Regions from separate parts of the Homo sapiens genome. Here region 2 is linked to region 1. The links come from fine-mapping of genetic effects on gene expression. Tissue or cell type: monocytes. Region 1 holds a variant in brackets; the other region holds the start of a gene. All regions are shown on one strand. Distances are between the middles of the regions.

Region 1 (10,277 bases):
TATGAGGAAAGTGAGGTAATAGAGATCTATGTTAACTATTTTAATTGTATTTTAGGATAAACTTATTTATCTTAAATTTAGGTTCTTTGTCGAAATTCTAGTTCAATTAAAAATCTCATTAATACATGTTGCCACATTTCGATCTCAGCAGTATCTGTCAAGATAAATTAAGATTGTTTTATAATTCTCTGGCCAAGAATTTCATCAGGTAGGTTCATTATCTGCTGTCCAAGCTGGTTAGTTTATCTGATTAAAGCCCAGGACTCATGACAACAAGGTCAGGGATTCAGTCGTGTCTCTGGGTTAATTTACCTTGACTTCCATTTACATTTTAAATCCTGAACAACTTCTTACAAATCTGTGGGTCACCAAAGATTAGGCATCTGGTCATGACCAGGACCAGTGGATTGCCACTATCAGAAAAACAGCTCTATCTCATGGCTTTGGTGGCATTTGGCTTGTACATACTACATAAGCATTTGCTTAATCTGATGATCTGCATCAACTCCCCTAATATTTAGTGTTCATTAGTGGGTTTTGCTTTTCTAGGTCTATTGTGGTCAGAGATATTTGGGAAGTAATTTGTAATTTCAATTTTGAATTAACTTTGTTCAAATAAAATTTCTTAAGAATGGGCATTTATCTTTAGATTAAGGCCAATAGGAATTATCTAAATATCAATAACTGCCAGTTAGTTTGGAGAAAGCAGTTTTGTTGTGGATCTTGACCCCACCCCCATTCCTTGCTGTTGGAGGAACTCCATTCTGCTTTAAGGTATCTCCCAACCATTTTTAGAAATCTCTGGGGGCAGTCCACAATGCTTATGAATATAGCCTACTTCATCTTCTTTTGGGTAACTTCTAATACGGCACTCAGAGGCAAGGACTCCCCATGGCCCCAGTGCCTCTGATGTTTGCTGAGACCCATCAGATGGAGCTGCTGGCTATAATCTGGCCTTGCAGCTGCTCCATTTCTGACCTCAGGGGAGAAAGTGCTCTTGAAATTCCTTCTTCTAACCTTTTGTAATATTCTGATATACAAGCTTGAGAGCATTGCTAGTTGATAAATATTTTAAAATAAACAGCTCTTTCTTTTTAGTTTCAAGGTTTTTATTTTATTTTAGTTTTTGAGACATACTCTTGCTCTGTCGCCGAAGCTGGAGTGCAGCGGTGTGATCTCAGCTCACTGCAACCTCTGCTTCTTGGGTTCAAGTGATTTTCATGCCTCAGCTTCCTGAGTAGCTGGGATCACAGGTGCGTGCCACCATGTCCAGCTCATTTTTTTTTGTATTTTTAGTAGAGACTGGGTTTCACCATGTTGGCCAGGCTGGTTTCAAACTCCTGGCCTCAAGTAATCAGCCCCTCCCTCCACATCCCCTATGCCACTTTGCCCACCTTTGGCCTCCCAAAGCGCTAGAATTACAGGTATGAGCCACTGTGCCTGGCCTAGTTTTCAGGTTTTTAATCTCAGCCTTTCAGTGGTGTGGCTGTGGCCAGCTTGCCAGCTGGGAGCTTGAAATCAGTCACAGTAGGAGTTTTTACCTTATGACAATCACCAAGTGCTACAAATCAGGACTTTTTTTTTCCTTAGAGAGGCATTTACCAACATACCACTGGTTCTTCCCCTGCTTCTTTTACCCTTTTCCCCAAGACTCTGGAATGTGACCACAAAAATGGGAAAATATTTGGGCTGATGGGATAATACCATTTTCCCAGTCCTGGCTGAATCTGAGCATAAATCTATTTTCTTATGGCCTCACCTTCTTACAAGGCTCCTAAGTTCTTTAGGAAAACAGAATCCTTGTGGTTTCCCTACCCCAACAAAGGTTCCAGACCCTCTCTACCTCACACATGGCATCAACACAATTTTAGCTATAAACCTGATAGCTTTAGACTCTTGGTTCCCTAAGGGAGATAGATACAGGGACCCATCTGTGTACCACCATCCCCAGCACGTATTTTAAAGTTATTCAGACACACCTCAGAACTAGGGTAAGTGCAGTTTAGGATCTCAACTATGAAAACCAGAGGCAACTGGCACACTTTCATTATTAACTGCAATGAACCATTTACCAACCAGCTAATTGCTTTCTCCTCAATCTCCTCCCATTTCTTGTGCCACTTATGTCAGGGAATTGAATAGGATGAATAAATCACTTTAGTACTTTGGTACTGGAGAAGAGCATATCATTCTTAGACAGGGTCTTGCTCTGTCACCCAGGCAGGAGTGCAGTGGCATGATCATGGCTCATGCAGCCTTGACCTCCCAGGCTCAAGAGATCTTCCCACTTCCGCCTCCCAAGTAGCTGAGACTACATGTATGCACTACTACACCTAGCTAACGTTTTAATTTTTATTTTTTGTAGAGATGGGGTCTTACCATCGCCCAGGCTAGTCTTGAACTCCTGGTCTCAAGTGATTCTCCTACCTCAGCCTCCTAAAGTGCTGGGATTATAGGTGTGAACCACTGCACCTGGCCCCATATCACTTTTTTTTTTTCCAGACAGCTGGAGTGCGGTGGTGCCATCCTCTACCTCCTGGGTTCAAATTATTCTCCCACCTCAGCCTCCTGGGTTCAAACTATTCTCCCACCTCAGCCTCCCAGGTAGCAGGGACTACAGGTGTGCACCACCACGCCCAGCTAATTTTTGTATTTTTGGTAGAGATGTGGTTTCACCATGTTGGCCAGGCTCATCTTGAACTCCTGAGCTCAGGCAATCCGCCCGCCTCAGCCTCCCACAGTGCTGGGATTACAGGCGTGAGCCGCCGTGTTTGGCCCCATATCACTCTTTAAAACGAATTAGAATACAAAATATTACAAATAAATTTGTAACTACAATACAGTATAGCAACATAATAGGGACACTAAATCAGGAAATACCAAGGTTCCTGCAGTTTCTTCTACTTTAAATAAAATGTTATAATAATTTCAACTATTCACTTTATATGTGCTATACAGTTCAAAGCAACCTCATGCCTCTCCCTGAATGGTAGGAAGTTAAAATGTGGACTTTGCCACTGCACTTTGACCCTGTTAACTAATATTGTGCAGGCAGCATCCATACTCATTATGTACTATGTCCATAAGGTAAGTATCTTCCAAAAATAAAAATCAGTGTTATTAGCAATGCCTTGCTTTCAACAGAGATTTATTGAATAGCCACACTAAGAGGGATAAAGTGAGAAACGAGATGGACCCTGTCCTCAAGGAGCTTTGGTCTTGGGAAAGATGAAGCATATAATCAAATTGTTGCAATGCATAGTGTAATGGCCAGAGCAGACGAATGTGTAGAGAGGATGGGCGCCTACAGGCTAGGAGGGACTTGAATCTGCCAGGAAGCGGAACAAGTAAGTTTTCCAAAGTCTGTGCAAAAGTTTTGCAGCCACAATTTAACTTGAGCTCAAAACTGTTTTCACACCCTGTAAAAAGAGCAGGTATAGATGAAAGATGAACAATCAGCGATGACCATTAATTATCCCTTCCTATTTCTACGCTCCACAGTGCTGGTGCCATCAGCTCTCTGAGCCCTGGCTCTGTTCTTAATGCATTTTTTTTTCCTTAATATTGGGTGCTGGCCAGGTGCGGTCACTCACGCCTGTAATCCCAGCACTTCGGGAGGCCAAGACAGGCAGATCACTTGAGGTCAGGAGTTGAAGACCAGCCTGGCAAAAATGGCGAAACCCCATCTCTACTAAAAATGCAAAAATTAGGTAGGCTTGGTGGTGCATGCCTTTAATTCTAGCTACTCAGGAGGCTGAGGCAGGAGAATTGCTTGAGCCCAGGAGATGGAGGTTGCAGTGAGCTGACATCGCGCTACTGTACTCCAGCCTGAGTGAAGGAGTGAGACTGTCTCAAAAAAAAAAAAAAAAAAAAAAAATTGGGTGCTGAGGCCAAACTGACTAGCTTGTATTCTACTAATAATCTTCCAAGAGCTGTGCTATATAGTTTTATTTTCTTTTAGCCTTCTTTTTATTTAGAATTATAGTTCCTAACTTTTCAAAATTACTCTTTGCAAACATTTTCCTTCCTTTTAAGATGAAAAGGGAACTTTATCCTGATGTTAGGATTGATCATATAATCTGCATTAAAAAAAAAAAAAAAAAAAA[A/C]AAAACTCCAACCGGGCGCGGTGGCTCACACCTGTAGTCCTAGCACTTTGGTAGGCCAAGGCGGATGGATCACCTGAGGACCGGAGTTCCAGACAAGCCTGGCCAACACGGCGAAACCCCTTCTCTACTAAACATAAAAAAATTAGCTGGGCATTGTGGTGGGCACTTATAATCCCAGCTACTCAGGAGGCTGAGGCAGGAGAACTGCTTGAACCCAAGGAGCAGAGGTTGCAGTGAGGCAAGATCCTGCCACTGCACTCCAGCCTGGGTGACAGAGCGAGACTCAGTCTCAAAAAAAAAAAAAAAAAGTCCTCCCAAAATAGCTTTTCAGAAATATGTGACTGCCAAAGTACAGTACAGTAAACCTCTCCACACATGGCTGAATAAACTCTTACAGAACATTGTGGAGAAGAATTTAGATTGGGATGTCAATGTCCTGCCTAGTTAATTAGAGTGTATATACTTCCTTTAGTAGAATAGTGTGTTCTTTTGCAATGATATGTTTCTGAAAGAGGATCTTTAAACAGCACAAGGATTCATTGTTTTCTATTCCTTAATGATTTGGGAAGAACAAATTGTTAATCTATGTAGGCCAAGAATGTTTTCTTAGCATGCCTTGTTTTATGCATTAATTATTCTTTAGTTATTTATTTAGTTTGATTCCTTCCAGGACTGATTTCTTCTTAACAAAAGGACAAATACTAATTCAAATCACTTTGGAAATGACCTAAAAGTCATCAGAAATATCTTGAGTGGAGTTAACACAGTATATAGAACTGTTCAGGAAGTTTTCCTAATTAGTAAACCAGTCTCTTTTCATGTCCTTTGTAGGGACATGGATGAAATTGGAAATCATCATTCTCAGTAAACTATCGCAAGAACAAAAAACCAAACACCGCATATTCTCACTCATAGGTGGGAACTGAACAATGAGAACACGTGGACTCAGGAAGGGGAACATCACACTCTGGGGACTGTTGTGGGATGGGGGGAGTGGGGAGGGATAGCATTGGGAGATATACCTAATGCTAGATGACGAGTTAGTGGGTGCAGCGCACCAGCATGGCACATGTATACATATGTAACTAACCTGCACATTGTGCACATGTACCCTAAAACTTAAAGTATAATAATAAAAAAAAATCTGTGAAGAACAGAGACAGGTAACTTCAGAGATCTTATCTCTGTAAACCTTACATTATTATTATCTGGCATAAACTTACAACAAAAAAACAAACAAACAAACAAAATCCCACCCAGAAAACTTCACTATCCCCATCCTACTCTGCATTGTTATAGTAAGAATTATTGGTAGATGTAGCTGCAGGCACTAGCAAATTACCTTCTCAGAGGACAACCCAGAAAAAACTAGCTACAAAGTGCCCTAGCAAAGTGCCCAATCTTCAGGTTTTGAAGGACTACTGTGTTGCTGCTGTTGTGTGTGTGTGTGTGTGTGTGTGTGTTTGCTAGCAACTTATCAGATTTCCTAAGATTTTCCAAAAAAAAAATGATTTTTAAGTAGCATTTGATAAACACGTCTAAATTAATTATGAAGAGAACTAGGTGGTAAGGATCCTAAAACAGTGGAATGTGTTCCTGAGAGTGACAACAGAATCAGCTACCCAGCCTTTAAAAGGAGAATTTATATCCTTTTAATAACAGTATTAATAATAGTAGGGTGATTCAGGGGAAGTCCTTCAAGAGACAAAGTAATGCAGAGTGACCACTCCAAGTTTCTTTGAATATAAAATTCCATAACAAATGACCTTATTTTTCTTAAAATTGTTCACACATAGTGCAAGGCCTGGGGTTTTTAATTTATTAACAATCTTAAAAAGTCTGTTTAGTTCCTTCTAAACAACAGTTAGCGAGCTTTAGTAAGGCAGAAGTCTGGAAATTGTTCTTCAGCTAGGGGCCAGGCCTTGTACACCTGGTTTCTGAACAATGTGAACTTCAACAATGTGAACAACGTGAACCTCAGTGGAACTGTAAACGTTACCAAATAGAAAAACTGCTATGACCCAATTTCTCTGTACACATGTACCATTTACTTTACAGCCTTGGAGCCTGATAAATAGGAAGTGTCTCATCCTGTTTTCTGGGTTGGCAGTGTTTGCCATGCAGGTAGAATACATGCAGGTCAAATCTCATATTGTGCTAAATCACAGCATTCTGAAAAACTTGGGACCTTGCAAAAGGCCATATCTCAGAAAAGTTACTGCTTCAAATAAATGTGCCATTTTACAAAATTATACCTACTGTATCAGAAAAAAAAAATGTTCTCTCATGTGAGTGACATTTATATGACTGCCATTTGTAGGGAATAGGACATTCTCACATAGCAAGGCTGAAGAATGGTTTTGAAAGCTGAGAGTATTCTCTGAATGATAAATGTGGCAGAACTTTAAGATGCTCCTGTGGGAAGAGACTCTTCCCCCGACAACTGGAGAGTTTCCTTATAAAAATGGAACATGCATTATTATGAAAAAAGTAACCACTGAATTATAGTTGTAGCATTAAGGAGATTTTCTATGTATTTCAAACTTGCAGGCATCTTTAGTCACGGCTTTTCACCTTGTTAGAGTTGAACTTTCTGGATCATCTGGCCCAGTAGCCAGCCTTTTATTTTACATCTGTGGAAACTGAGGCTGAGATAATGAGGTTCTAGTTATTATAGAACTAGGAATAGTATTCTTCCTCCCCTCCCCCATTCTCTATCCAATTCACTTTCTCAGCTCACTGCAACCTCCACCTCCCAGGTTCAAGTGATTTTCCTGTCTCAGCCTCCTGTGTAGCTGGGATTACAGGCACCTGCCACCACGCCTGGCTAATTTTTGTATTTTTAGTAGAGACTGGGTTGCACTATGTTGGCCAGGCTGGTCTCGAACTCCTGACCTCAAGTGATCCATCGGCCTTGGCCTCCCAAAGTGTTGGGATAACAGGCTTGAGCCACCGTACCCAGCCTCAGTACACCAATCTTTTAAAGAAAGTTCCTAAATTACCATCTAGAGGTGGGAAAAAGAATAATAAAATTCTGTCTCTGGACAAACAAACGGAACTGAGGCTTTATTTACTCTTCACAATAAATTATATTCTGAACAATCTTCCTCCAGAAAAATAACCTTTAAATTGCAAGAGGAAATTTAAATCAAGATAAAAAAATGGAAGTGGTTGCAGGTATCAGGACAAATTTTTAGTGCCTGGTCAAGAAGCAGCCTCGGATCTGAGACCTTGGAGACTGACTGCTAAAGCCACATTCTTCCAGCCTACTTTTTGATGGGCGCCCCAAGAGTGCGCCAATCCAGAAGTAAGATGCAGAGAAGAATCTAACCCCTTAATTTTCCCCCTTTGGGCTTGTCTGCACCCTGGGGTAGGGATGAGCCTTAAACTCCAGGAAGTTAGAAGCTTGCTGAATCGCGGAGCAGCCTCAGGTGACTTTCCTCTAAAGTGATGCCGGGGCGCGGCGGGGAGTTTGCAAGCACCTGTTCTTCAGTGCGATGGGCTGGGGAGTGGGGTCCTAGCAGCAGGGACTGGAGGTGAGCTGAAGCAGATAAGGGACGGGAGCCTTGTGGCGAAAAGTGACCCACCTGAGGGAGAGGCGCTTCCAAGGAGGAAGCGTCCAGCGCCAACGGTGCGCGCCGCGGGCCGGGCGGGTAGAGGGAAGTTTCGCCGCGCCTGCAGCTCAGCGCTGTGGCTTGTGGCTCTCGCTGCTATAAGAAGCCAGAGAAGGGCGGGACGGTCTGCTGGATTTCGCAAGAGAAGCGGAAAAGAACTTGTTTCCTGGAAGAGTTCAAGCTGAGAATCCCAGCAGCTGGAAGGACCGGAACTTCTATACTGCGGTGCTGCTGATGGTGCCGCTGACCCCCGGGAAGCGGGGATTTTAAGGGTTACACCCGAGCCCTTGGCATCTGTGCATCCCAGGGTGATTGAGGTTTGGAGAGGTCTAGGAATCCCCCTTTCCTAAAGGAGCAAGAAGGATCTCTTTGAGTAGCTGAGAAAACAGCACCTGGACTAGGCTTCTAGGCAATTCTTTTGCCATCTTGTCTCAGTTTATAGAAAAGGTGGTATCTTTCCCCTCCGCCTGGAAGCCATGGGTTCTTATGGGGCTCATAACTTGGAAGATCTTGAGTTTTCAGGTCTTAATTTAGGTAGATTAAAGAAATAAAACAAATGAAAGAGGGATCGGGATACCTTATGATATACATGCAAATGTGTCTTTCTACAGAGAAGGTCAAAAACCACAGCCCTGGTTGTTTAAGATTGAAATAATCCTGATAAACTATGGGGCAAAGCATCCATACACTCCCAAACTCTGTAATCTAAATCCCAGAGTCTTCCCAATGATCTCCACTCAGCCATGGGTCTTAAATTCCACAGCATACGCTTGCCAAGCTCCAGAGGCCCGGCCACATGGGAGGCCTGTTCCTCCCATGGAAAGGGGTTGTTGAGTCAACCTTCCCTTTGTCTGGATTGCAACTCTCCTCATAGCTTCTTGTGGGGTTGGTCAGACCCCATGTCTTTCAAGAGGTCTTTTCTTAGCCATTAGTTGCAATTAATATTTTCTTTCTCTATACAGTAGTTTATACTTTTAGCACAGCAATTAAGACAATTTGCCTTTCAAAAGAGTTATTATCATGTGTGTGTGTCTTGTCCTGGACTGCAGTCTTCGAGGGATGACACCCTAGTTTTTTCAGTCTGGAATTTTCCATAACACCTAGCAAAATGCATTACTTAACAATGGGGATTTATTCTGAGGAATGCCTCATTAAGCAATTTATTAAATATATTCTGAGGAATGTCTCATCAAGCAATTTCGTCATTGTGTGAACATCATAGAGTGCACTTACACAAACCTAGATGGTATCACCTACTACAGGCCTAGGCTAGATGGTATATAGCCGATTGCTCCTAGTCTACAAACCTGTTCAGTATGCTACTTTTCTGAATACTGTAGTCAGTTGTAACACAATGGTAAGTATTTGTGTATCTAAGCATAGAAAAGGTATAGTAAAAATGTGGTATAAAAGATAAAAAATGGTATACCTGTATGGAACACTTACCATGAATGGAGCTTACAGGACTGGAAGTTGCTCTGGGTGAGTAAGTGAGAGAGTGTGAAGGCCTAGGATATTACTATACACTACTGTAGACTTTATAAACACTACATTTAGGCTATGCTATTATAAGAAATATTTTTCTTCCTTCAATAGTAAATTACCCTTAGCTTTCTGTAACATTTTTACTTTTTAAACTTCTAAGTTTTAAAAAACTTTTTGAGTTTTGTAATAACGCAGCTTAAAACACATATTGTACAGTGTGTACAAATAGTTTTTGTCTTTATATCCTTATTCGATAAGCTTTTGTCCCGTTTTTAAAAGTTTTAATTTTTTTGCTAAAAATGAAGACACAAACACACATATTAGCATAGACCTACACAGAATCAAGATATGTGATATCACTGTCTTCCACCTGTATGTCTTTTGTTACTGAAAGGTCCTCAGGGGCAGTAACATGCATGGAGCTGTCTTCTGTGGTAGCAATGCCTTTTTCTGGAATATCTGCTGAAAGACCTTCCTGAGGCTGTTTTACAGTTAACTTTTTAAAAAATACAAGTAGAAGGAGTACACTCAAAAATAATTTAAAAGGTACATATAATAAATACATAAGCCAGTAACATAGCTATTTATTATCATTATCAAGTATTATATACTGTACATAATTGTACATGCTATACTTCTATATGACTGGCAGCATAGTAGGTTTCTTTACACCAGCATCACCACAAATGTGAGTAATGTATTGCTCTGTGATGTTATGACAGCTACAGTGTCCCTAGGCAAGAGGAATTTTTCAGCTCCATTATAATTTTATGAGACCGTTATTATATATGCAGTGCATCATTGACCGAAACATTGTTAGGTGGTGCGTGAGTGTAATTGGTACTGAATATTTATTGCACTCATTAATTAATAAATCTACTGCCAATTATTATATTTTGCAAAAAATTCATCCGATAGTATTCTTTGGCCAGGGAAGAACTTAAAATATTCATTGATTTTATAGCATCTGATTTTCCCAGTTTGCAGACTAATAGGCAAGAGAGGGGTGTGCACCCATGGAAGAAGGTCCGCTGCGTGTCCCTAAGAGTCTTCATAGATGGTCAACACAGTT
Region 2 (10,277 bases), 84 kb before region 1:
TCTCTGCTGTAATTTACCTTTACTCTTTTTCTTCTCTTCTGTTCATTCTACTAGAATGCCTCAAACATCTTTTCTTCTCACAGAAACATACAATATAATGGACCTAGAAGGAAAGCCCTACCTCCAGCTGTTTCTCTCAACCTTATCACAGACGAACAACTAAATTCAGGGAAAAAAGAGAAGCTGAATTACAATCTTACTGACTGGAACACAACTTCTCTCACCAACTCCACCTCTAGGTATGACTGCTTCCTTTTAAACTGGTTAAGAAGGGCCCATAGGCTCTGAGCTGGAGTATCCCACCTGCTCATCCAATTCGGACCTGTGCTTTTTGGTTTGGAAGTTGGGTTTAAAAGACTAATGGCCATATAATATCTGCATTACAAAACACTGACACCTCATAGGCAGGATGGTTCTGTGGTTCAGTACGGCCACCAGAGAGTAGGCAAATGGATTCAATCACATAGGCCCCATGATTCAGGAAATGCTTTCTCTTTAATGCATTGATCTAAGGCCATCACTAAATGTGGCTTTCTCAATGAAATTTTAAAAGGACTGCTCTCTAACAATATACAACCCATTTTGTTAGTCAGATTCTAAAATCTGCCACACCTCATCTACTGAAAGGATGTAGAATAACAGGCCATGCTGTGATCTCACTGCACTTTGATAAACCCTGCTAATAGGCAGGCCTACCTTGTTTACCAGCTCAATTGCGTAACAATTAACAATTTAAATGTACTGCCTACACAGTAAAGAATAACATCCCCTAATCCAAAAAGTGCTTATTTTGTTTAGGACTAGATTAAATAACAGGAACTTGAAAGGTTCTTCGTTTGTATTAATTCCTCTAATTAGGAAAGAGTAATAGGATACTAAAGTCACATAAAACAAAGGATAATGAAAACAAATGCAAAGAGTTCAAAGACAGCCATCTAATACATGCCATGTCAAATAGTTTTTAAAAAAAGGCCACTATAAATTCACAGCTGTGAATTCTAGTTTGAACATTTTAATCCACAGCTAACCATGAAATTGGGTCTTCAATTTGATGTTTTGTCTCAATTAACAACTGGCAAAGAAGTTGGTAATGTATTTGAACTAAGACATTATTCTCTACCCTGGAAATCTATCATGTTCAAGATCTAATTTCAAGAGGAACCACTTCATATGTGTTGGATGATGAGAAGCCCCCAGTTGGGATGCAGCAATTTTTTGGATTTTCTGAGACAGGCTGTCACCCAGGCTGGAGTGCAGTGGCACAATCTTGGCTCACTGCAACCTCCGCCTCCTGGGCTTGTATAATCCTCCCACCTCAGCCTCCTGAGTAGCTGGGACCACAGGTGCATGCCACCATGCCTGGCTAATTTTTAAATTTTTTGCAGAGACAAGGTTTCACTATGTTGCCCAGGCTAGTCTTGAACTCCCGGGCTCAAGCAATCCTCCCACCTCAGTCTCCTAAAGTGCTGGGATTACAGGTGTGAGCCACTGTGCCCTGCCAGGGATGGAGCATCTTTGCAGTATTTCATTACTCTCAGCTCATGGCAGAGTGTTCAAAAGGCAGGGGTAGGGTAAGGGCTGAATTATGGAGCAGCAGGTCCAGTAAGTAGAAAGGCCACTTCCCACTTAGCCTGAATACATTCTATGAAGTGGAAGAGGAAAGACCTGAGGGATGTCATGGCAACCACTTATGTTAGCAGGAGCATGCCCAAAGCTCAGAGACCAGGAGTGCAGGATAGGCCACTCAGGGACCAGGGGTGCAGGGCAGCAACTCAAAGCCCTAAGTGCCACCAGGTCAGGGCAGAGTAGGCTCTTGGCAAATAACAGTAAATATCAGTTCCTAATGTCAGTTAATGACCCCTGACCTGGCAGATTCCATTTCAGCACCCTACCTTGTCCTCTGTGAAGGAGGCCACCCAAACTGTCTCACTGGTTCTAGGTACACAAAACCCAAATCTGAGAAATCCACTAGATTGGCAGGTAGGATGGAATAATTTATTATTATTATTATTTTAAAGACAAGGTCTTGCTCTGTTGCTCAGGCTGGAGTGCAGTGGTACAATCATAGATTACTGCAGCCAAAAACTCTTGGCTTCAAGCGATCCTCCTGCCTGGGCCTCTGAAGTACTGGGATTACAGGTGTGAGCCACTGTGCCCAGCCTGGAGTGATTTAAAAACTGTTTTCAAATCAACATTTTGAAATAGTACTGTATTTTAGCTTTCGGAATTCTAAACTTTGCTAGATCCGACAAGCTCAGTTTTCTTGAAGGCTGTAATCACAAGTAACAGCTAAGATAGGAAACACAAGAGTATATTTAGACAAACTTTGGGACTGTCAACTTACGTTTGTATCCTCCAGCAATGCCAGACTGTGTCAGACATCTCTGCAATTCATCAGCATCTATCTGCCCATCCTTTTGAAAAAAAATTAGAGGAATCATAATAGTGATTTGTACTTTCAAGTTGTTTACCTTCAGCATTCAATGAAGCAATAACAACAAAGAAAATCAGTATCTTTTTTTTATTTAAAAGGAATGCCTTTTTTTTATTAAAAGGAATGCCTTCCAAAAGTGGGCATTCTTTTCCTTAACCCACTTCCAAAAGTAATTTAATGATGAAAGAAAGAGTCTGTCTTGGCAACTACTCTTCTCTCAATCTGAGCTAGCAAACTGCTACAGCTAAACATTTTAAAATATTTTTTTTTGATGGGGGTGGAGAGAGCAAGGTACAAAGCAGACATCAATAAATAGAAGGCTTGGTTCAAACAGAAAAAGGCCTCCTTGGTCACTTTTTCTTATGATATAGTGAATCATTTTTTTCAGAGCACAAATACATCTGGAAGATTCACATTAGGTTCCCAGTGCCCATTCACTGGCTGAACTGGGAAAGAACTAGATATATGTGATTTTTAGGGACTTTAAAATAAAATACCTAAATCTTCAAGTCACTGGGTATTATAAGTTATAAATGAGGAGCAAGATCAGCAATTTGAAAGACAATGGGTATGCTGAATACAGGCCAGGGCTGCTGAAAGCTAAGCAGGTGGAGTCACTTACATGCTGGAGGCACTGGCAATCTAAGAATGCTAGTCTTGAGGTTTGCCATGCCTTGTGGTTTCAAAGATACAGATCATTAACAGTTTAAGTAGATACTTAAGGGGAAGGTCTTCCAGTTTTAGACTATATTTTCCATTCAATTTCTTAAGCTGTATTTCTTAGAGTACTACCTTAAAAGTGGTCTTAGGTTTTTTATCCCATAATATTCTACAGTTTTCACATTAAGATTTTGCTATTTCTAGCTTTTGGTCAAAACAAAACTAGGTTGAATTCATAAGAACAAACATCTCCTCTGGACGTGTCTGGGTTATACCAACAGTATATTTACTGCACACAGTGACCTCATGAACTAGGGAAGTGTCCTCTCTCAATGTAAGATAGCACCTGTCAATGTAAGATAGCACCTGTCATACAACTCAGAATGCAGACAAGTGAAAGGTCTTGGGGAGCTGACCTTAATTGCTTCTCTGGGTCAACAGGCCAGAACACCTAATAAGGACATGGAGGGGCTGACCTAGTAACAGCATCTGCATCAAAGAGAAACTACACTGTTCACAAGATTAACTTTCTGATACTAAGAAGGGAACAGTAACTTCCTTATTTAGAAGCTGGTGGGTTTTTACCATATTTCCTAAGGGGGTGAATGATTAGCAATCAAGTTCAACCCAAAGAAAGTGCCCATTAGAATCGAGCTATGTAATTACTAATATATGTCTTTAAGTTGTACAAACAAGCGTTTATATTTACCAGATCTTGAATTTTTTCGCTTGAAACCATCCTGGACCCTTTAATTCAACCACAAGTTTGCTTTCGAACTGAACTCACATAAATACGAGTAACACTTTGTCCTCATTTATTCTGAACATTCAGAAATAAAAAACTAAAATAAGAAACAACTTTTTTTTTCTTTTGCAGAAGCAAAGGGACTCAGTACCACAGGAAGTTCGCTTTTCTGTGTCACTATATCAAAAGCTACCACAAATGCAGACAATAACGGCTCTTTAATATTAAAGGGAAAAGCTAACCTGTCCAGCTACAGCAGCAAAGTAACCATACAGCGGATCCTGAGTTTGTCCGGGAAACGCAGGCCCTCCGGGAGCCCCTCCATACTGTGAAACAGGAAACACATACACGTCATTCTGCCGAATCAAGTTTTCTTCTTTCACCACTGAGGGCTTTTGTGCAAGGCCAGACAACTGCCCGCCTGCCCGCCCTTCACAAGGCTCACCTCCCCACCACCGGGCACACTCTGCCAACACTCCACCCCTCTCTTCCATTCACACCCCGTAATTTAAAAACTGGCGACTTAGACCATAAAGAGTTGCTGTGAAAGTGATGTCTACATATGTAAAGCAACTTTTAAAATCCCTATTAACCTGAAGGTTACTGAGGTGAGTGCAAACTAGGTAAGCCAACGAATGGCAGGGCTTCAAATTCTCCTTTTGTTGTTACAGCATTTATGGTATTTTAAGAGCGTTTTATGAACGATGGAAGGCTGGAGTTGGTAACATTCTGAGACGGGTGTAGCCTAGGGAAGAGTAAGGTGTCCGGCCGGGCTGTATCTCGTGGGTGGCGAGGGAACATTGCCTGTCTCGGAAACAGTTCCCAAGACAACGCGCATCCCAGACGCCCGGCGAGGCTGCCTTCCTACAGGTCTTTTACTTCAGCAGGTTTTCCCTTTTTTTCCGTCCCCCTTCTCACTCGTTTTTTGTTTGTTTGTTTGTTTGTTTGTTTGTTTGTTTTTTAAAGGGAGGAAGGTATATCATTCTAGAATAAAATGACTGTTGTTGCTCTGGGAGGCAACCAAGAAGGCGGGGGTGGGGTGGGGTGGGGGTCAGCCAACACCCAATTAACACGATTTCACGCCGCGTATCCGAGAAGCCGCAGGGTGGGCTTCTAGGGTCCCAATCCACCCTCACCTTGGCCCCGCAGGGCCATCCAGGAGAAGGGACGGGGAAACGTGGGGAGAGGCCGAACCCCAGGGGCCTAGGGCGAGGCCGCGAGCGCAGGGAGAAGCCGAGGGCGGAAGGAGCCCGGGTAGCCGCCCAGCAGCGCCTCACCCCGCTGGCCGCAGCATCTCCAAGGTGGCCTCTTAGCGCCCCGGAGCCGCCTGGGCCGCGATCCCGCGCAGTCAGCACTTACCCCGCCTGGGTAGTACCCGCCGCCGGCGCCAGGATGCCCCGGGTACGCCATGCTGCAGACTGCGCCGCAGCCGCCCTCGCCCTGTGCGCCAGGCCTCTCCGCCCCCTGCCCCGCCCCGCCCTGCCGCTAGGGGGCCGCCCCAGAGCGCACCACGCGGGCGTGGGGGACGCGCTCCGCAGTCGTCTCCAGCTCTTGCCTGTGCGCGCGGCCGTGGCTCCCCTGCCTGCGCGCTTCTTCGTATCTTTGCCATTACGGCGCTAATGCAGTGCACGACTGAAGGTCCAGTGGCGGCCTACGACCTGCGAGGCAATTCACACCAGGGACTTTCCTCCCTCCAAAACTAATGGCACATTCCAACACCAATACACCACCCCAGGAATTCTTTTTTTTTTTTTTTCCTTCGGACTTGGCTATTATCTGGCACATTTCTTATTTTAAACAACTTTATTGGACAGGACGGAGCTATTATAAGCGGAGCGCACCATCGCGAGGCAGGGGCTGGATGCGTTAGGGCAAGCCTTAGGTGCCAGTGGGTGAAGGAGTCTTTGAAAGATGGAAATACGAAAGCGCCCTTGGAAAATAAGAATTAACTTGACGAACTGTGTGCAAGGGAGAGTTTGGCTTGCTGTTGGTTGCAGAGTTCACTGAACGACAACGGCGTATTTCCTTCCTAGGGGACAATTCCTTGCCTGTTTAAGCTGAGCGTGACTTGTGTCCTGAGTAGGACAGAGGGCATTTTCCGGGCAGGACAGACTCACACATATCGTTCTTAGGAAAATGAATTGTTTGAATTATCTGGATGATTCAGACAAAACAATCCATTTCCCTAAAAGTATTCAGCTACTTTTTATATAAGAAAAGTTTAGAACAAACTAATAGTGTACTGGTAAGTATTCAGGAAGATAAGAGATAGGAACTTCTATGTAGGTTATTCTTCTTTACTTCATATATTTTTCTATCTTCCAGTTGAATAGTCCGAAGCAATTCAGGCGTGAGCTTTTTGTTTTGTTTTGTGTAATTTCAATGACAGAAAATTGCTTGCCCTTCACTGTTAAGGACTAGACTTAATGATTTCCTGAATTTTAACGTATTGAGAAACGCATTAATAAGCAAGATTCACAGTATTTGTTGTGGAGGTTGCACAGAAACATTTAAAGGGTCATCAACATTTCACAAATATTGGAGCACCCGCCAATGTGGTACTGTGCTTTTTCGCTGTGGTGGACGGGCTTCCTCCATTCTAAATTCGTGGGCTATTGTCCTCATTCGGTTCATTGTTTTTCTCTTGTGTGTAACTTCCCTCGCAAGCCCTTTTGAAAACCAAAGTCCGAATTGTGAGAAAAATTCTAATAGTCCCTGTTGTGGCATAGCAAAGACACTGCATGTTGCCTGTTTTGTGTTTGATTCAGGAAGCAGGTTACTGTTTTCAATCATCAAGGTAGCAATCATCAAGGTAGATGAGACATCTAATGAGTCCCCTGGTCTCTCTTTGGAAGCCTGTTTCTTCAGAAAGAGGTAACCGACTATAAAGAGTAGATGTCAGGGCCGAACTCGATGTTGAGTACAAGCTCAAGACTCAAGTTTGAAAGAAGTATAAAGCATATAAAATATTTTTAAGTACTGCAGAATTAGCTTCGTGGATAAACGGCTATACGAATTGGCATATCAGTTGTCCTTAGACATCTTCCCACTGCTTTACTGCTAAAGAATTGAATTTTTTTTTTAATTACACTTTAAGTTTTAGGGTACATGTGAACATTGTGCAGGTTGGTTACATATGTATACATGTGCCATGCTGGTGCGCTGCACCCACTAACTCGTCATCTAGCATTAGGTATATCTCCCAATGCTATCCCTCTCCCCTCCCCCCACCCCACCACAGTCCCTAGAGTGTGATATTCCCCTTCCTGTGTCCATGTGATCTCATCGTTCAGTTCCCACCTATGAGTGAGAATATGCGGTGTTTGGTTTTTTGGTCTTGCGATAGTTTACTGAGAATGATGATTTCCAATTTCATCCATGTCCCTACAAAGGACATGAACTCATCATTTTTTATGGCTGCATAGTATTCCATGGTGTATATGTGCCACATTTTCTTAATCCAGTCTATCATTGTTGGACATTTGGGTTGGTTCCAAGTCTTTGCTATTGTGAATAATGCCGCAATAAACATACGTGTGCATGTGTCTTTATAGCAGCATGATTTATAGTCCTTTGGGTATATACCCAGTAATGGGATGGCGGGTCAAATGGTAATTCTAGTTCTAGATCCCTGAGGAATCGCCACACTGACTTCCACAATGGTTGAACTAGTTTACAGTCCCACCAACAGTGTAAAAGTGTTCCTATTTCTCCACATCCTCTCCAGCACCTGTTGTTTCCTGACTTTTTAATGATTGCCATTCTAACTGGTGTGAGATGGTATCTCATAGTGGTTTTGATTTGCATTTCTCTGATGGCCAGTGATGATGAGCATTTTTTCATGTGTTTTTTGGCTGCATAAATGTCTTCTTTTGAGAAGTGTCTGTTCATGTCCTTCGCCCACTTTTTGATGGGGTTGTTTGTTTTTTTCTTGTAAATTTGTTTGAGTTCACTGTAGATTCTGGATATTAGCCCTCAAACTATACTACAAGGCTACAGTAACCAAAACAGCATGGTACTGGTACCAAAACAGAGATATAGATCAATGGAACAGAACAAAGCCCTCAGAAATAACGCCGCATACCTACAACTATCTGATCTTTGACAAACCTGACAAAAAGAAGAAATGGGGAAAGGATTCCCTATTTAATAAATGGTGCTGGGAAAACAGGCTAGCCATATGTAGGAAGCTAAAACTGGATCCCTTCCTTACACCTTATACAAAAATCAATTCAAGATGGATTAAAGATTTAAACGTTAGACCTAAAACCATAAAAACCCTAGAAGAAAACCTAGGCATTACCATTCAGGACATAGGCATGGGCAAGGACTTCATGTCCAAAACACCAAAAGCAATGGCAACAAAAGACAAAATTGACAAATGGGATCTAATTAAACTAAAGAGCTTCTGCACAGCAAAAGAAACTACCATCAGAGTGAACAGGCAACCTACAAAATGGGAGAAAATTTTCGCTACCTACTCATCTGACAAAGAATTGAATTTTAATGGAGTGTTGCAAATTCAATTCTTACAATTATTGCTAACAAATTGGTCAGCTGCTAATACTTTAGTTTGCTGGAAAAAATTGTGGCAACTTATAATACCATCAGACATATATATAATAATAAAAATATGCCAGATCCTCATCGCATTTTACTTATTTGCTTAATCTTAATAAAAACCCATGGGATAGGTACTATTGTCATTCCTATTATACAGTTTTGAGGAAGGGGAAGGAACAGAACAGAGCTGAGCTATGCTGCCAAGCCATCTGACTCTAGAGTCTGTGCTCTACACCCAGGGGCAGGTAAAGGGCCAGGTAGTAAATATTTTAGGCCTGTGGGCCATACAGTCTCTGTATGAGAGAGTCTACATACATAGTGGTATGTAGACTATGTAGTCATAGTGGTATGGCCAAATACCACTCAACTCTGCTGTGTAGGCCACAAGTATCCATAGACAATAGATAAATGAATGGATGTCGCTGGGTTCCAATGCAACTTTATTTATAGACACTGAAATTTGAATTTCATATGACATGAAATATTATGCTTAATTTTATTTTTCCAACCATTTAAAAATGTAAATATTATTCTGAGCTCTTGGATGTACAGAAATAGGAGGTGGGTCAGATTTGGCCTTTGGGCAGTAGTTTACCAACCACTGCTGGAAGCCCCTCCAGAATGCGGGCTTATGACTCTGGCAGTTTAGCACTTTAGCAAATGATTTGCTGACTGTAAGATAAAGCCTATGGGTAGAATACAGTTATTTGTCAGAACGATTTACTAAGTCCTAAAAAAAAGACTGTAGGAGGGTTGTGACAACAGCATGGGTTAGGGAGAGAACTATGTGAGGTTTATAGATAGGATGCAGGTCATGGTTATTTTGGGAAGTCATTGGAATTACAGAAACCTTTCTGATCATATACTCCAATCCTGCTGTTTACAGAAGAAAAGACCAAGGCTGAGAGATGGCAAATATCTGGCCCCAGCTCTTGAAGAGCAGACCTAGCCAGATGTAGATATTTCACCCTTCCCAATTAAAGCTGTGACAGTAGATAAACATGCTCTCAGAGAGAATCCCATTCTTTTGTGGTACACCTTCCCTAATTATGTTTTCAAGACAAACGGCAGTGTGGACACTTTCTTATTCCTGGAGAAAAGTTAATATAAAGCTCTACATATAGTATCCAACCTGGACTTCTTCGCTCAGATAAGTGGTGAAAGAAATAGTGTCTAACTAAGTAACTGTAGTTATTTCACCATACCTGCAGTTGAATTAACCATAGGTCTTCACTTGTTAGGAAGAAATGAGCAATGACATTTGCCAATTTAAAGTTTCAATTTTTGTTTAGTTCTGATCTGGGTGTGGCACCTCATGATTTAAAGACCTCTGCCTTAGAGAGAAGCTCAGATCTCCAAATGTAAGTGGAAATGAGCATTTGATAACAACATAGGTAACCAATTAATAGTATCTCCACTTTCTTAAGATTGTTGGGAAAGAGTGTGAAGCCTATGATGTTCATTTGGGAATAAAAGCCACCCTTTTTCTTGAACTGTCCGGAGTAAGAGCTCAGTTAATCATGCTATTATGTAATTTTTTCAAGGGATAGAAAACTTCCACTATTGATGTTTTAGTGCTTGCATGTAGAGTTTAACTGGTCCCTGGCATATTGTAGATGGTAATGAATCATCAACCACAGCTCTTCAAACAACTTCTGCTACAATAGAAATGTTTGATAACTATGCCACACAATAACTAATCACATATGGCTATTGAGCCTGTGAAATGAGGAACTAAAATTTTAATTTAGTTTAATTTAAAATGGAATAGCTGTGTGGCTAGTGCTACCCTCTTGAACAGCACAGGGACCCTTTCATCTGTGTTGGCTTCCTCCTCCCTGGAACTCAGAGAAAGCAAACTCATTCTACTTGCCT

Which allele goes with the higher level. Positions count from the first base shown, and alleles are read on the strand shown. Sizes are in standard deviations (SD) of each study's normalised expression.
For the expression in monocytes of the gene that starts at base 5,261 in region 2, allele C in region 1 goes with a higher level than allele A (moderate effect, 0.62 SD a copy in BLUEPRINT).

The links. PIP is the estimated chance that this variant, and not a neighbour inherited with it, causes the effect.
Region 2: it holds the start of SRI, and the variant in region 1 is fine-mapped to the expression of SRI in monocytes (BLUEPRINT, PIP 0.95).

What each region holds. Positions count from the first base shown.
Region 1 is chr7:88,299,099-88,309,375 of GRCh38, forward strand. STEAP4 (STEAP4 metalloreductase) reads right to left here and starts at 7,796. Exons shown (of 5, transcript NM_024636.4): 1 at 7,694-7,796. The region is part of intron 1 of LOC124901692 (a long non-coding RNA gene); the gene reads left to right. The variant A/C (reference allele first, on the strand shown) is at 4,107.
Region 2 is chr7:88,214,778-88,225,054 of GRCh38, forward strand. SRI (sorcin) reads right to left here and starts at 5,261. Exons shown (of 8, transcript NM_003130.4): 1 at 5,199-5,261; 2 at 4,082-4,165; 3 at 2,345-2,414. The coding sequence starts at 5,249. SRI-AS1 (SRI antisense RNA 1) reads left to right here and starts at 1,883. Exons shown (of 3, transcript NR_120517.1): 1 at 1,883-1,980; 2 at 3,972-4,447. LOC124901691 (a long non-coding RNA gene) reads right to left here and starts at 1,807. Exons shown (of 2, transcript XR_007060419.1): 1 at 1,666-1,807; 2 at 1-159. RefSeq lists silencers at 4,247-4,336, 4,984-5,483.